Homo sapiens: one gene and its partner. The protein of the gene in region 1 interacts with the protein of each later gene in a pairwise test. Each region holds a gene or a part of one and is shown on either strand. Other genes may lie near its edges.

Region 1 (3,530 bases):
TTCAATGAGCAGAAAACAACTTTCACATCATCAAAATTATCAATCTTTTCTCTCATGGTTAGTGCTTTTTGTGTCATGTTTAGGAAATCTTTTTTTTCTTGAGCCAATTTCAAGTTCATGTTTCCATTAATAAGAAGTAGATATACTTGAACTTTGCACATGTAAAACCTAAATGTACCTATTAGCCAAAAAAATATTTTCCTTGTTTACTACAGTTTGATTTTTAATGCTCTTTTGGCCTACATTTTAAAAATACTTATATAGGTAACACCCTGTTTTAGGGGTTTCCAGAGAAACAGAACCAATAAAAAGGATGGACAGATGGGTAGATTAGATAGATAGATAGATAGATAGATAGATAGATAGATAGATAGATAGATGAGAGGTGATTTATTATGGGAATTGACTTACATGATTATGGAGGCTGAGAAATCCCACAGTAGGCCACCTGTAAGTTGAAGAACTAGGGAAGCCAGTAGCTTGGCTCAGTCCTAGTCTGAATGCCTGAGAACCTGAGTGGCTGCTTAGTACAAGTCCCAGAGTCTGAAAGCCAGAGAACCTGGAGTTGTGATGTCCAAGGGTAGGAGAGGATGGGTGTACCAGTTTCAAAAGAGAGAGAGCAGAGAATTCACCTTTTTTTCTGCCTTTTTGTTGTATCCGGTCCCTCAGCTGATTGGATGGTACCCACACACATTGGGTGAGGGTGGATCATCCTTATTCGTTTCACTGATTCAAATGTCAGTTTCTTTCGGAAACAGCCTCACAGACATATCTAGAAATAATGCTTTACCAGCGATCTCAGTATCTCTTAATCTAGTCATGTTGAAACCTAAAATTAACCATTATACATCTTGAATCATGGAAGTCCTTAAGGCTGTCATATCCTTTTTCTTTTTGAAATTCTATCCTTCTGTTTTATATATTTCTTGAATATATAGTGGAAGATTGTTTTTCTTGTGAATTTTTGTTAGTTTACATTTTCAAAAGATTGCTGATAATTTTCTTTTTTGTTTTTAATTAAAAAGAGACCTTTAGTTGAGTAAATACTTCTCATTTACCATTGATTTACTCTTGCTTTCAGGTCCTAAAGGGGATCCAGGTCAGACTATAACCCAGCCGGGGAAGCCTGGCTTGCCTGGTAACCCAGGCAGAGATGGTGATGTAGGTCTTCCAGGTATGTGAGGAATTTATTTCAAAGTAACTTCAACACCGATGGCTTTTTTTTTTTTTTTTTTGACAGAGTTTCGCTCTGTCACCCATGCTGGAGTACAGTGGCGTGATGTTGGCTTGCTGCAGCAACCTCCTACTTCTGGGTTCAAGCAGTTCTCCCTGCCTCAGCCTCCCAAGTAGCTGGGATTACAGGCGCCCACCACCACGCCCAGTTAATTTTTGTATTTTTAGTAGAGACGGAGTTTCTCCACGTTGGCCAGGCTGGTCTCGAACTCCTGACCTCAGGTGACCCATTGCCTCAGCCTCCCAAAGTGCTGGGATTACAAGAGTGAGCCACTGCACCTGGCCCTGATGGCTTCTTTCTTTGAACGTTTTCCTTTCAATAACTGCTGTTTCTCCATAGGTGACCCTGGACTTCCAGGGCAACCAGGCTTGCCAGGGATACCTGGTAGCAAAGGAGAACCAGGTATCCCTGGAATTGGGCTTCCTGGACCACCTGGTCCCAAAGGTATGTTGGAATGGGTAGCAGGCAGAGTAGGTTAGAAGTTTAGCATGATGTTATTCTCTCATAAAATTCATTCAACAAATAAAATATATTAATTGCACCTTTTTTCTCTGTGCTATAAAGAATGTAAATAAAAAATCACAGTGTATTTTCACTGTAAGTTCATTATCTTTATCTAAAACAGTCCAGACAAGAAAATATCTACATTTTAGATATGCAAAAGTGATATATAAGCTTAAAAATCACAGGAATTATTGTGTTTTGTGTTCACCATAGTATTTTCAGGGTTTAGAACAGTTCCTAACACATAGTGTGCACTTGATGTTTATTGAGTTAAAGGATTTTTTAAACAGAAAACAGACTTATTGCAGATGTGTAGCCAAGTAATGTTTTATGCTAAATAATATTTTCTTGATTTATTGAAATTTTTAGGGCTTATGCTTCAGTTCTGCTTTATTCCTCACAGAATTTATTCTCACAAATGGCAAGAGCACACAGTGGTCTGAGGACAGTTCTTAAATATATCTTTACTCATTTATACAAAATGCTTTCAAAAGTATCAGGTTTGATTTTATGTGTGTATGTATCTATAATATCTGCAGTTATTTTTAGATCATTTCCAAAATTATATGGTAGGCCCTTTGTCATACTACATCCAGATATAAGCAGAAGAAAAGTTCTTGGGCATTTTTGTGTGGGATTCATTCCTTACAATTTAGTTCTATCTTATTATATAATAGCCCTCATTTTCTTCAGAAAAGCATATGTTCCACATACATTAGCTCTATGTGAAAATAAAAGGAATGTAAGATGATTGAGAGGATTGTAAGGCTTAATCCTAAGTAGTAGAATGTCATTGTGCTTTTGACATCTTACTGTTGTCACTAAGCATGAGTAGAATGTGGGTTTGGGAATTTGAATATCTTTCTTAAAGTGCCTTTCCTTTGGTGGTTAAAAAATGACTTATCATTTTACAGGCTTTCCTGGAATTCCAGGACCTCCAGGAGCACCTGGGACACCTGGAAGAATTGGTCTAGAAGGCCCTCCTGGGCCACCCGGCTTTCCAGGACCAAAGGTCTGGGACATTTTTCTTTATTCCTTCTCATTTTCTTATCTTTCCCACCTTCCTTATTTCTAGCTCTCTATTTTGACTCAGATATCATCCCAAGCCCCAAGTCTTTACTATAAATATACAGATAACTTATTATATTTCCATTAAAAAAATATTTAACCCCAAATCATCTTTAATAGTCCAAGGTCACATTTGGAGCAAAAAAAAAAAAAAAAAAAACCTAATTTCTGTACCTACTTTTGAATGCCCAGTTCTTTGATTAGAGAATACAGGCATACCTTGGAGATATTGCAGGTTTAGTTCCAGACCACCACAATAAAGTGAATATCAAAATAAAGTGAATCACACAACTTTTTTTGTTTCCCACTACATATAAAGGTTATGTTTACACTATACTGTAGTCTTTAAAGTGTGCGATAGCATTAGGTCTAAAAAAAACCATATGCATACCTTAATTAAAAATACTTTATTGCTAAAAAATTTTAGCAATCATCTAAGCTTGCAGCAAGTTATAATCTTTATGCTGGGGGAGGGTTTTGACTCAATATTGATGGCTGCCCACTGATCAGGGTGATGGTTGCTGAAGGTTGGGTGGCTGTGGCCATTTTTTTAAATAAGACAACAATGAAGTTTGCCACATCAATTGACTCTTCCTTTCAGAAAAGATTTCTCTGCAGCATGTGGTGCTGTTTGATGGTATTTTACCCACAGTAGAACCTCTTTCAAAATTGGAGTGAGTCTTCTCAGACCCTGCTGCTGCTTTATCAACTAAGTTTATATAAT
Region 2 (3,355 bases), on another chromosome or scaffold:
TTTTCTTTGTGGTCTTCACCCTTATACCCTGGAAAAGTCTGTAATTACCTTAGCCAGGAAGATAGATGGTCATGGCAAGCGCACAGCACCAGACTTACTGGCTCACCAAGATGATGGAAAAAGGCAGATGATTTTTTAAAAAGCCGTAATGACTCCTTTAGACCAGCCATTTAGCGTGGTAATTTTGAAAGGCCTAGCTCCATTGCAGACTTCCAAAGGGTCAGCTCTGAGACTGCCCTCCAGGTGGGCAGTTGATTATTTCCACCAGTGTTTTCCAGAGCCTTAAACTGTCCTAAGTGACAACTACCTCAGTTGGCAGGAAAGAGACATATAGTAGAAAGTGAAAAATGAGCAGTATTTGGGCAGATGCTATGGGTTACAGTTGAAGGGTAAAAGGAACTTTACATTGGGAAACCTTTATACCCTTGTGAATTATGTACATGGTAAAATGTTCTCTCTCTACAAAGAACTATTAAAACTTCTGAAATATACTATTTTTTACCTTATTTATAGAAATTGAGACCTAGCATATTTAAGCATAAGTTTATTTTAAAAAATAATTCAACTCGTGCAAGTGGTCTCAGGATTCTCTGGAGATTTTGGTGCCTCCCCTACTTAGGGAGGTGATAGCTTGCCTATAAGGGTGACTTTTCCTGATCATGTCTTTATTTCAATGAGAAAGCACTGTGAAATTGTGAAAGATTCTCCTCTTTCTCTGTTTAATAAACCCCCATGAAATATAGTTTCCATCTCTAGACCAGTTTTTTTTCCACCGTGTTTAGACTTGAGGTGAATAAAATCAAACTGTTTTTTACTCCCTATCTGGTAGTTGGAGACCTGAGCTGTAGGCAGTGGAGATGGCAATTGGTTCTGCAGCCTGAGAGTTGCTCTCACACAGTGAAGGACGGTGCTGCTCTGGTGTGCTGTGTGTCCTTGCCCTGCCTGCCTGTGGCTCTGCCCAGATGCTTCAGATCCTCTGTGTTCCGGAGATTGCTTGACTTCAACCTTCTTTAGGAGCTGCTCTTGTCTCCCTCTTGGCCACTTAGTTTGCTGGCTCAGTCACTACTTGAAGACCCCATTTAATTTTTCTCTGGCAGTTATAGCTCTTGTGATTTCAGTACAGTCTCATCTCTCAGACCAATCTCATCAAGAAGGATTGAAGGGATAACTATGAGGTAAGCTGGACATTGGAGCCGTGTTTGCTGCCACGTCAGCGTCTTGCTGGGTGAATGTCAAGCCATAAATGGGCTCCAGGGCTCTGGATCTCATCAGCATTGGAAATCTATTGCCTCTCATCAGTCTGACCAAATTATGTAGAGCATTAATGTAGAGACTCCCATTAATGGGAATACAAGAGGCAGCTGGCATAAAACATTTCTTTCACTTTCCTTTCCCACTCAGATTGCTTCAAGAGACCAACAGAACACAGGGATCAAAAACAAGGAAAATTTAGCAACTTCATTACCTTCTAATAAGTAATTCCTGTTAGCCACTGCATCCCACCAAAACTAGTTTATTTTTCCCCTCAAATTCATGATTTTTACGTCTGTTACAAAGGGAATTTTGCTGATAGCTCTTTGGGTCCCACTGTTCCATTTTATGCTAATAGATTCCATTCTAGGGCCCAGCCGTCTCTTGACTGATGGTGTTCCCTTTAACCCTTGGCATGTATAATAGAATTTTGGTGAATGAAAGAACCCAAATAGGCCAGATAGTCCCCCCAGGCCCTGATATCCATAAAAGGCTTGGGAATGCATTATGTAATTGTCCTTAGTCTTTTTGTTGTTTTAGAAAAAAAAAACAAGATGGGCTCAGATGGATGCCTACGTAAAAATGGTTCCTAGCTGTGTACTCATAACTTTTCTTTGAATTGAGTAGTGAAAGGAAGGAGGAGGAAAGGAAATTAAATGTCCTTCTAGTATTCTCTGGACTCAAGTCTGACATATGAGATAATAACCTATATTGAAATGCCAAGAATTGTATCTGAAACAAGAGAACAGTTTGACACATTTATCATGCCTTCATATTACATATTAACTGAAACCAATTAATAAACATATGAAATATCCATTGCACAAGGCAAAGGCACCTAAACCTTTTGTTTCTTTTTCTACATAGCAGAAATTGATTTTTTTTTTATTTTTTTAGGGGAACCTATATAATTATGACCCAGTGATGTCTTTTGGTGACTTAAGCTTATGAATTCAGGTTACAATTGAGTTGATTCTAGATGGTTACTACCTTGAAAAGGATGTTGGTGCCTTATGTGACACGAGCCAGAGCCTGCTGGGAATAAACAAAGCAGATTCATGCCAACACCAACTCGTAGCTTTAGTGGCAGATGGGAGTGGTCACAGACTCCCAAAATGTGGGGCTTTGGATTTCCACACCATCCCACGTGTGTGTCATCTTCCTCTTTCACACTCTTGATGATAATTTGAAAATGGTGAAATCACCTCTGAATTTGCCTATAGCATGAGCACATTCTTATGACAACATAACAAATAGTTCATAATGTGAATATTAGAAACTGTTACAGCCTGCAGTTACCATAATTTTCCATGTTTGTGGAATTGATATTGAAATAGCAGGGCTAAGGAATTACTGGCAAGTTTTAGCCTGTGGGTAATACCTTAGGGTTATTTAAATATTTGTAATTTTATTTAAATGTTCATGAATGTTTGAAAGGAACAAAATTATCAGGGATGGCTCTTTGCCATGGGTCTTATTTTCACCCTCTTTTCTGTAAGAAAAAAGAACAATGTCTTAATGTATTTTTAAAGTTTTTGGTATAGTTTCTAATTCCAATTTTAATAAAAGTTTTATAGATATATTGTGGTCTTTCTTAATGAACATAATATTTTCTTGTTTGGATTTCTTGTTTTCAGGTAATCAGCAATTTACTCCTCAGTTTCATCTTTCTAATGAGATGGTTTTGCATGCCACTGATTTCCCTTTTTTTCTTAGCCACCCCTTCCTGTCCCGAGTCTGTACTGGTCTACTTTCATCCTTGGACTGGATGATTTCCCAGGATGCAAAATCTCTAAGGGGTATTCTTGCAGGAGCAGCAGGTTGTACTACCATGCTGTCTCATAGAAAAGCAAAATACAGGTTATTCTTGGCCCAAGGAACTACTCTGATTATATTTTAGTTCTTTTTTTTTTTTTATGGCATAAAGTATCTCTTTTGTTTGTCCATTGGGATGGGGAGAAGACCTATGGCTCCAGCTATGGGATCCCTACCAAGAGCTCTGTATAGGGTGGAAGAGAGAGTAGGGCTGTAGTGAGCCTTATGTGTATTGAATAAAAACTTAAATTATGTCTAGGCCCAGCTTCTACCATAGGAGTCTGGTACC

The links. The genes of interacting proteins can lie anywhere in the genome.
Region 2: the proteins of COL4A5 (region 1) and NEMP1 interact in binary tests that used the Homo sapiens proteins (3 or more experiments, as listed by UniProt).

Annotation. Positions count from the first base shown.
Region 1 is NC_000023.11:108,600,312-108,603,841, forward strand, and holds part of COL4A5 (collagen alpha-5(IV) chain isoform 2 precursor), read left to right. Parts: intron 1-1,081; coding exon 1,082-1,174; intron 1,175-1,573; coding exon 1,574-1,678; intron 1,679-2,652; coding exon 2,653-2,750; intron 2,751-3,530. UniProt on the Homo sapiens protein: Type IV collagen is the major structural component of glomerular basement membranes (GBM), forming a 'chicken-wire' meshwork together with laminins, proteoglycans and entactin/nidogen.
Region 2 is NC_000012.12:57,055,119-57,058,473, reverse strand, and holds the end of NEMP1 (nuclear envelope integral membrane protein 1 isoform a precursor), read left to right. Parts: 3' UTR 1-2,831; downstream 2,832-3,355. UniProt on the Homo sapiens protein: Together with EMD, contributes to nuclear envelope stiffness in germ cells. Required for female fertility. Essential for normal erythropoiesis. Required for efficient nuclear envelope opening and enucleation during the late stages of erythroblast maturation.